2 separate regions of the Homo sapiens genome follow, and region 2 is linked to region 1. Evidence: fine-mapped QTL for protein levels in blood plasma. A gene starts in region 1. The other region holds a variant in brackets. All regions are shown on one strand. Distances are from middle to middle.

What was found. A credible set is the group of variants that fine-mapping cannot tell apart. PIP is the posterior inclusion probability: the model's chance that the variant is causal. Protein levels are from the aptamer-based SomaScan assay of Sun 2018.
Region 2: its variant is the best candidate, but not a certain one, in a credible set for the plasma level of the PCDH9 protein (Sun 2018, PIP 0.69).

What each region holds. Positions count from the first base shown.
Region 1 is chr13:67,226,179-67,231,499 of GRCh38, forward strand. It overlaps PCDH9 (protocadherin 9), which reads right to left and starts at 4,158. Exons shown (of 5, transcript NM_203487.3): 1 at 3,602-4,158; 2 at 1-2,397. The coding sequence starts at 2,262. RefSeq lists a silencer at 4,429-4,568.
Region 2 is chr13:67,146,761-67,152,143 of GRCh38, forward strand. The region is part of intron 2 of PCDH9 (protocadherin 9); the gene reads right to left. Among named protein-coding and RNA genes, the nearest start is that of PCDH9, 81 kb to the right of the region's middle. The variant A/G (reference allele first, on the strand shown) is at 2,661.

The sequences.
Region 1 (5,321 bases):
GTTGACCACCAAACGATGCAATCCCACATCAGTAGGTGCTGGTTTTTCTTCCAGAGTAATGTTACCTGTTACTGGATCAATCCGGAATAAGCCTTTATTGTTTCCACTCACTATAGTATACTTTAGTTCAGCGTTCATTCCAGTGTCAACATCCACTGCAAAAACTTCTGCTACCACGGAGCCAGGAATGGCTGAGAGGGGCACCAACTTAAAGGAAGTATTAGACGGTGGAGAAATGACAACTGGGCTGTTGTCATTGACATCCATGACGTTGATAGTTACTTTTGCAGTAGAGGAACGAGGTGGTTGTCCTCCATCAGTGGCTTTGACATCAAAAGTGTAGGAACTCTGCTGCTCTCTATCAAATGAGACATTTGACTTTATGACTCCAGAATAGGGATCCAACACAAAATTATCATTGTCATTTAGAATGGAAAGAGTCACAGCTTTATTCTCTCCAGCATCTGCATCTGTCACTGTGATTACCCCCACAGTACTATACTTTGGCAGATTCTCAGACACAAAAAATTGAAAATGATTATGAGTAAACTTGGGGCTATTGTCATTCTCATCCAGAACAGTAACAATCACAGCCGCTTGGCTTTGGAGGGGAGGGGTCCCATTGTCCCTGGCAGTTACTGTAAAAATGAATCGTTCTTGTTCTTCTCTGTCAAATACTCTGGAGGCTGTCAAAACTCCTGTTTTTCGGTCCAGATCAAAGAAGGAGGCATTCGGTCCAAGCTGATAAACAATGTCTGCATTTTTCCCACTGTCTTCATCTGTGGCACTAATAGTTGTTAAGTATAACCCACGTCGGTTGTTTTCAGAAACTGACAGCTCAATTACAGGCTGGTTGAAAATTGGTGGGTTGTCATTTTCATCCTCAAGCTTAACCCTTACCAGGGCAGTCTGATTTAAACTGGGCTTCCCAGAATCAGAGGCAACAATTTTAAAGCTGAATTCTTTGGTGCCCTCATAGTCCAACAAAGAAGAGGTCTCTAACAAATATTGGTTGTCATATACCGCCTTCAAATGAAATGGGACCTCTCTTTCAATAAAACAGATCACTTTGCCATTCACATCTGTGTCCTTATCTGAAACTGTAATTAGGGCAATCTTTGTATTGACAGGATCTTTCTCAGATAAATACACGGTGCCATTGATGGGACTTATAATGTACCTGAGGTCTATATTAGGAGGGTTATCATTTACATCGGTGACATTGATGGTAACCGTTGCTCGAGCAGGAGTGGAGCTGCCGTCACTAGCCAGCACTGTCACTTTGTGAATGGCTGTCTCCTCTCTATCTAAGGACCTCTGAACTGTAATCAGCCCAGTAGTATTATTTAAAGCAAAGAGTCTTTTGGTTGCAGGGGCGACCTGGGCACCAAAAATGTACCGGATTTCAGCATTACTGCCTATATCTGCATCAGTGGCATGGAGCTGAATTACAGAGGTACCTACGGGAGCATTCTCTGGAATATGCACCTCCACTTGACCCTCTTTAAACACTGGCCTGTTGTCATTTACATCACTTACTGTGACCTGCAGTATGGCCGTACTGGATTTCTGTGGAGTGCCTCCATCCTCTACTTTGATTTTCATCACATAGGTATCTTTCTGTTCTCTATCCAAGTTTTGCTGAACAATCAGTTGTGGCCACTTCTCTCCCTCTGGAGTTTCCACGATATCCAGTCCAAAAACACTCTGCCCATTTAACAATTCATAATGCTGTACACCATTGAAGCCTGTGTCAGGATCTGTTGCTGATGGAATTGGAAAGCGGCTGTTGATCAAAGTGTTTTCTGGAATGGAAATATTGATGACAGGAGATGGAAACATGGGGGCATTATCATTGGTATCCTTGACAATTATTTTTATTTTGATCAGCCTGAAGAAATCATTGGGGAGGATCACCACCTCAAGTTCAAAGAAACACTCATTCTCCTCAGCATATGAGGCGCCAGCACAGAGTTTTTCTCTGTCTATTCTGTTGGAGGTTGTGAAAATTTCCCCAGTGCTGCTGGAAACTTTCACCAAAGGGGCATCCCCAGCTTTAGAAACCAGTCTGTAGACAAGGCTGGCGCTGGTCCCTGTGGCAGCATTGATGTGAGAAATGTTCAGATCCTTTGGTATGTTTCCTATGGGCACATTTTCAGGCAATTCCTCTCTAATAGTGTAAATAAGTTCTTGAGCTATTGCGGAATCCAGCCTTAAACAGGCAATCAGAGCAGCCAACAGGTAAAAATCCCTCAGGTCCATGATAATGTATTTATTTTCTTTTCCTGGATTTTAGGGTTTAAAGGTTTCCACTGAGGAATGATGCACAAATTGCAAGAGGAAGCGTGCATGGACTGGAGGATGCATTATATCTCATCACTTATTTGGAGACAGCCGCTGTCAACACAATTGTATAGACAATATTATTCTTCAGTAAATAAAAACACACCGTCACAAAATATCACCACACATTTTCCCCTGAACATTAGTAAACATGGCAGTTTGCTCTGCCACTGTTTGCAAGTTTACTCTGTGGAGAAAAACACTAAATATCTCCTGCTGGTTGCATTTGCCGGGAGAAAATAAAATTTTCTACTTTTGAATTAAGGACAGCTGCTATTTTTACCTATATTCACGCACGTTGTTTTTCAGAATACTGTTTAATTCAAAACATGCATTCTTGTTCTCCTCTTCCCCTCCCCCTGTCTCACCCTCCTCCTAGCCTCTAACCTACCTCCCTCAGTCTTTTCAGGTGCAAGTGAAAAACACTAAGTATTTAGCTACGGTTCCTGCTAATTGCTTTGTCACATGTCAAATGTGTTTTCTTCTCTGCCCCACTGAGTCACCTATCTTTTCTAAAAAGGCTATCTTTTTCTTTCCTCCCAGTTCTTCAACTGCCTTCTAATACAATCTTACTGGGAAACGAGCATCCGGACATGCCGCTGCAGCGGCATCAGAAGCAATAGTCACCGGCCTCTACACATCCTCATTGCCTAAAAGCACAACAACAAGACTTCAGATTTCTTGCCCACAGCTTGCTCTCCTTTCTCCATATTGACAAATTATCCTCATTAGGATTCATAAACACATTAAAACTTTTAAAAATGTATAATAATATAGGATTCATTTTCCTAGAGGTGGAAGAGAGTGCCGAGATATAAGTGAAACGCAGCTAACATTCCCATGTAACATCACAATATTTTCTACTGAACATAAAAGAGAAAAAAAATGCAATTTCTTAATCCTGATCTCTGGTTAGAATATTAGTAACATTTGCCACACATAAATACTGCAACCCAATCATGCAGGTAAAAAGGCTTCTGCTTAGATAACTGCAGTTTAAATGGGTGCAAGGCTCCAGGCAGCTACCTACTTGAGTAGGACTGGTCAGTTCTCAGGCTCTAATCTTATCTGCATTAGGCTGCACAGTAGCTGATGCCCGCGATTAGTTCCGGCAGAGTGATGCAGGTAGGGATGCAGATACAGCCGAGTAGGTGAGCTCTGCCCCAACCGTCTACCCAATTACAAGCATCTTTCGCCTACACTGAGGACACATCTAAACACAGAATTTACAATTGTGCATGCGAAACTTTACACTTACGTTAGTTGCCTCAACCTTTCCCCTTTCCCAGTATGCTGCAGTTAGGAATGATTTGTTCCAACACATAGAAAGCCATGCATCTGGTAGCACCAGTTTGGGGAGAAATCAGAAGCAGCAAAATGTTTCCTCCTTGTAAAATGTGTTGCTTCGGGCTGGCAAATTAGCAACTCCAGAGAACAAATTCACGGATTTGTCGTTAGTCATTCTCTCCACATTTCGTCTCTCTTACCCACTGGGTCTGGGTTCTTCTGGGCATTTAGCACACACAACACATAGTTGCACTTCTTCAGCTCAGGGATATTTTCCACAGCAGCATGCATACCATTTCCATCCGATGCCAATACTGCTTAAGTCTCTAACTTCTTGTAGGAAACGTCAGAGTTGCGGTGATGATGATTCTCTGACAGCTATCCGGGTGACAGTTGCCCGAAAAATTCCTAATCGGTTATCTCTTGCGTGCTTCAGAGACTCTGAGGCGCTCCTTTCCGTCTCGCGTGCTCTCCCTCTCTCCCTTCCCCTCTGCCCCTCTCTCCTTCTCCCTCTCCTCTCTCTGAACTGAATTTCTTGATATAACTCTCAATAAGCCCAGAGGGAGGGCGTGACTGCCCAGGCCCCGCCCCCGGGCTCTGATTGGCCTGCATCTTGCGGCGCGGGCGGCCGCAGCCCGGCGCGAGGGAGGGAGCGCGGAACAAGGCGCTGACTGTCTCCCAGCCTCCCCTCCTCCGCGCCCCCTCGGCAGCAGCGAAAACCCGGAAATCTGATCCTGGCCCCAGGAGAGCCGGGTTCCATGAGGTGCACTGAGCATGCTCTGCAGGGTCCGGCGTGGGAGGGACGCGCTGGCGCTCCCCAGGCCCGGGCGGAAGCGGCGCTCGCAGGCGCTGAAAGCGAGCGACCCTCTGAGCCCGGGTGGTCCGGCGGGCAAGGGCGGCGCGGGAGACCCGCAGGGCGCGGGCGCGGATCCGGGGAACCAGGGCCACCGCTGCGGGCGGATGGGGGTCACCGAGGCGGCTCGTCTCCAGGCGCACACTTCGCACATCTCTTTGCTAAGTGAAGGGGCCAAAATGCACAGATGGGGGAGTCTACCCAGGAACAGAGGCGCGAGACGTATAGCCACCCCTGGGTTGGGAGCACGAGCCAGCAGATCCCCGGAGCGCGTTAAACGGACAACATGCCCGGTGCTGCAAATAGAGGCTTTTGCTGGCAGGGACATTGGAAAGAAGGGCGGAGAGGGAGTACAGCGAAAGGTGGGGACCGCAGAATTTGGAATCTCTGCGGAGACCGGAAAGAAAATTAATCGGAGCACTTCCTACATGCAGAGCCACGGAAACTGCCTTGGAAAGAGAAAGTGGCAGCGTCTGGGTCCCCTCGGTCAGCCCGGGCCAGTCGGCTGCGCGTGCGAAGTCTCCTCTAGCGGAGCGGGACCGGCCGCGGCGGTGGATCGTGGCGGTCCCTGCACTTCTGCTCCAGCCGCGCCTGGAAACCTGAGCCCGGACTCGCGGCTGCTGCAAAACCCGCTTCCAGCCCACCTCACTGCGAACTTTGCTTCCGAGGGGCTGGAAGGAGTCCCAGGCAGCTGTTTCCCAAGCTGTGGAACACTTCCTTTCCCCTAGGCACTTTCTGCTGATTCCAACTTTCTTTCCTGTGATTTTCGTCTTTTCCCGTGCATTTCATTTCTCCGACTCCAGCTCTGTACTAAATCCTCACAAGTTTCTCGTTTTCA
Region 2 (5,383 bases), 79 kb before region 1:
TCTTTCTCTTTTATTAAAAGTACTCTGCCAGAAAAGCCTACTTCAGTCAAAACACACTTCCACTTAAGAGTTGTTTTATTTTTTTCTGAACATTTTCGTAAAGTAAATATTGAAGTTTTCTTCCTCCTTTTCTCTCTTTTCTGATAGGAAGTGAGATTCTAGTTTGTCAGGAAACAACTGTGATTCCGGCTTCCTTTTTTTAAGTTTAGTTATTCATTCATGGTTCTGAATTTTGTTATATAGGTGCCCAGAGGCAAGTGGAAGCATTTTTATACAAACAAAGTAGATAAACAATGTAGGAAAGATGCTCTAATGGACTGTTTCTCTGCTCCCCTCATGTAGCCTACAGCATTTTTTTATTCTGCAAGTATTACAGTTCATCTGAAAAGACTTCCGAAATCATCATTTTCAGGCTTAACTTTCTTTTTTATTCAGTTTCTTATCAGCAGCTGAAAATAGGATGCTAGGATGCTTAAACTTTCTATCAGACCTTCATTTTTCAAATGAGAGATAATTTTCAGAAAAATAAAATGGTTTTATCTTTGCAATTATTCATATCTACTTAGGGTATTTTTAATAGCAGAGGTGAAAGTGGGGCAGGAGGAAATGTGAGAGGAAGTACACATCGCAGATATAAAGCTGGGAATGTGTATCTACCAGAATAGCAACAACATGCTGTTTGGTTACAATCTAAACAGTCAGGGCCCAGTCTTCAGCTCTCCTGTTCAGGCAGCCTGCAGTGTCCCTGGAGAGAGTCTACGCTTGCCTTACATTAAAGTGACCTCTTTGACTCATGTTCACAGCCGTGTTAATAAGCTTGAAAAAGGTGCCCTATCCAGTTATATTTTTTGAAAAACCAGAAGAAATAATAACTGAGACTGAGTACATTTGGAATAAGGCCAGGGAATTTGGGGACTGTCTTATAATTACTACCTTTTCCATAGCCAAAATTGTTTCTTTGTATTTCATGGACACATTTACAATGTCCACTGTTTATACATTCCCTCAATGAGTATCAGGAGAATGCCTTTGCAGATAAATTGCTAAGAAATAGCTTGGGTATGGGCCAGTTCTCTTTTTGTTTTTGGTATGTGACCTCACTGTCAAAGCATTCCATCCTTCCTCTCTTCCCACCCCCTATCCCAGTAAATGAGTATGCATTACATGCAGGATAAAACTATCATATCCTTAAACAAATGTCCTTTTCAAAAGTGTAATATAAAGCAGACCCAGAAAGTCGGCTGCTATAACGATTTCATGTTTTGCTGATCCCGGTCTTTTCTTCTGAAAGGCTTCTTAGTGGTCCCCAGTGAAAAGTTGAGATCAGCATTTAAATGCAGGTCTATCTTTTTAACATACTTTAAGTCCTCAGAATTCACTAAGTCTCAGTGGCTTTGAGAATTTATAAGCGTATCTAAGATGTTAAGGCTACCTCCATGTCTTTTTTTTTTTTCATCCTGCAAAATTACATTAATTGGAATTTGTATTTTTCTTCCCCTCTGTGATTTGAAGGAAATATACTACTGAATAAGATTTCTTCAAGACCATTTCTTTGTGTGAAGCAGCTTTCCCCAGACAGTTAGGGACCAATTATAGGAATACTTATAGTCTTTGAATTTTTACAGCTGATGTACACTGGTTCCTCTCCTAGGTAACAGTAACATGCACATGTGCAATGAGTCACAGGAAAGAAAAAAAAAAGAAAAAAGTAATTATGTTGTTTCTTGTTATATGCAATAACCAGCATTTGGTTAGAACACCCGTGCAAGTTTTAATTTTAAATGAGAAGATGAAGGCAAAAGAAGCCAACTTCTTTTTTTTAATTACCACTTTTCTGCATCAATCAACATATTCATTTAAATTTAAAACTTAGCATTTTATATTTCAGTCATGTTTTTCTTCGATGTCCTTTGAAGTCCTTATCTATGTTCTTTACACATGTCATAAAGACATTTTTATTAACCATTAAAAGCCTGAGAAAAAGCTGATTGAGGTTTGAATGTTTCATATTCTTAAAGGTTTCAGTCTACATGTTAAATGGCAAAAATATAGCCACTGAAAACTGTCCCAGGATGAATTTAACAAATAGACATTAATTTGATCTTTAAAAGATGTATTATATTAAGTTTTTGATTCCTATGATGGAAAACTATTATATGATTTTGCCAGTTCTAGGTAGGAATGGAATCATCCAATGAACAAACTTTTACTGCAAGGCTGCAACTACAGTAAGGCACCTATAGAGCAAAACTTACAAAGGTTTTTACCTTACCTTTAGGTTCATGCTCAAATTTGAGCTCTCAAGTTCCTGCTCTAACCTACTACATGGCACCATAGCCCTTATAGACCGACTACATGCCAATGATATTGTAGGTCTCTTGAAGAAATATTAAGATGAATAATTACATTTAAAAAATGATAAGATAGAAACTTGGCCTGCTAGAATTTGTGAGTCTTGAAAACTTTCCTATCAGTATGAAAACAGGTAGCATAATATAACAAAGACATGGGCTCCTGTTGCTGACGGCCTGAGCTGGAATTCTGCTTTACTTCCTATGCGTGTCATGTTGGATATGACAATTTCAATATTTCTAAGTCTCATTTTCTTTATGAATTCTTTATAGTCATAGTACCTACTTTAAAGGTGTGATGAGAATTCA[A/G]TAAGATATTTTAAGCAGTGCCCAGCACATTGTTAGGCTCTGATAAATATTTATTATTGTGATTATCATTATCATTGTATTTACAGGAAAGGAAGGAAACAAATCTGAACAAAACATCAACTTTCATACAAAAGAAAGGAACATTAAAGGGAAAATAAAACTGTAAATACTGCTAATGGTCACGAATTTTTATTTGATTTTTTATGATTACTAGTTATCCTAAGATCACAAAGGAATTACGATTTCAACTTCCATGAAGAAAAATTACGTTAAAGATTTTTGCTTTGTATAAAAAAAAACCCTAAGATTATTAACTTTAAAGCTAAATAATGGCAGTAGTAATAAAAATACATTTGTATGGCATTTGAGTTCTAAAAACTATGCTTTTAGCCGAACACTTTCATGCAAATTAGCATGTTTAATCGTTATGAACACCCCATATGGTATTTTTAATCCCCATTTTGCAAATAAAAAACTAAGACCCAAGGTTACAGCACTTCTTAGTGGTATTGATACTCACTTTTGAAGCCAAAATTTCAAAAATAAAAGTCTTTTCAGGTCATATGTAGGCAAGAATATTTGCAGTTTATATTTTAATAATAAAACATAATTTGAGTTTTATTTATTTTATTTTTATTTTTTTGATATGGAGTCTCACTCTGTCACTCAGGCTGACGTGCAGTGCTCCGTGCAACATCTGCCTCCCAGGTTCAAGTGATTATCCTGCCTCAACTTCCCAAGTAGCTGGGATAACAGGCATATGCCACCACGTTCAGCTAATTTTTAAAATATTTTTAGTAGAGATGGGGCTTCACCATGTTGGCCAGGCTGGCCTCGAACTCCCGACCTCAAGTGATCTACCTGCCTCAGCTTCCCGAAGTGATGGGATTACAGGCATGAGCCACTGTGCCTGGCCCATAATTTGAGTTTTAATCAATACAAAAAGCCCAAAGTGTTGGTTTCCATACAAGTCAGAAAAAATCAGTATTAATAGAGAGTATTAATTTTATTAAGCCACATTTTGACTGCATTAGTAGGTAAAAAGGATGGAAAACTAGGACATCTTAAACAAATGTTAATCAGAAATATAATCATTAGTTTTCATATTCATTTCAATGGCCCCAGGGTGTTCCCTCATTCAATCCGTTGGTTTTGCCCTAATAATAAGTATTTTAAGTCATGTGATTCTTAAACACAATACATCCAAAACATGTGCCAATAATTATATCCAGAAGTGAGAACAATAATTTCTAAATAACTAGAAAACCATTTGCAACTAACATAAACTTGTTTTAAATTTACCAATAAAACCACTGGCAAATAAAGTAACTTGTACTCGCCCTTTGTAAACACAGGTGTTAGTGGTGTTCCCTAATCTAATAGAACTCCAGGAAGACTGTATCTTTCCACTGCACTACTATTGGCAAGCACAGTTAGTCTTTAATCCCTTTTAATCCAACCTACATATACAACAAGATTAGCTTTCTTGTTTAACCAACTTTGTAAGTCTCACTGCCCAAGGCCTTCCAATTGCTTCCCACCATCCACTGCCTAAGTAAACCTTAGTTTAGTCTTAATCATAAGACTAGATTCAACATGCACCATATATGAATTATACTTAAAATACTGTTCCCTCTGCCCTCACTTATTTTAATCCAGAAAAATTCTCCATCTTTTTCAAAGTCCAGTGGAAGGCTCATCCTCTTCTTGAGGGTCTCTTTGGCCATTTTATTCAAAACTCATCATTTGATGAGTACCAATAGCTCCTTTTTTAAAAAAAAATCACATTCATGTGTTTTATCTCTGTACTATCTTGAAATAGGGCCATTTATTGTGATTTCTCTGCTACTAAAGTCAAACTGATAAGTAGGGATGGAATTGTTTCTTAACGTTTGTATCCCCCAATTTGTTCCTCTTTAGGGATATTAACGTTTAATGCAATGAAAGAACATGACCTTATTTCCTACAGCCTTTGCACATCTCTTCATGGGTTTCTGGTTGTGGGTGTCTGTGTCTGAGATGCAAAAAGCAGAATTGGGTTCTACTGGTAAACTCAGAGCTCCTACTTCTTTTATTGTTTGCCTGAAAAAAAATAGGCATAGTTTTGACTTAGGTAGGGGATCTAAGAGTACTGCATCATTCCCAAATCCAACACTGTTAGAGTTAGAAGATCCTGTATGATTCAAGCACCTGGTTTCACACAGTGACTAAGGATGGGGAATATATCCCTTCTACAAGCTGGCAAAGCTTTTGCTCTATACTTAGAGGAAGAAAAAAATTCATCTTTTCAATCTATCAAAACTGAGGCACATAATAATTGAGAGGAGAAACTTATCATTATGCTCAGGGACTTTATGCTTTTGAGGCCTCATAAAGGACTCAGGAAGTATCAGCCCTTGTATAGCTGCAGGCAACATCTCCACCCAATTCTAGGCCACACTCATTTTTAAGGCACCAAAGCTCAAATGCACTCAGGGTCCTTGCATCATCATTTTGCCTAAAGAGAGATAATTTTTTTTTTGTTACAAGACTATATGAATGAACTAAAAGACTCTTAAGGATACTTTCTCATCTCATAAAACTCTCATCCCAAGTTACATGAGATAAACTGAAATAGTATTTTACAAATTCCTCCAAATTGTATCTTCTTATAGCTGAAGAACTTACAAGACTTTTTGTGTCCTATTTGTTCCAAGAATTGTAAATTTTACATGAAATAAAAG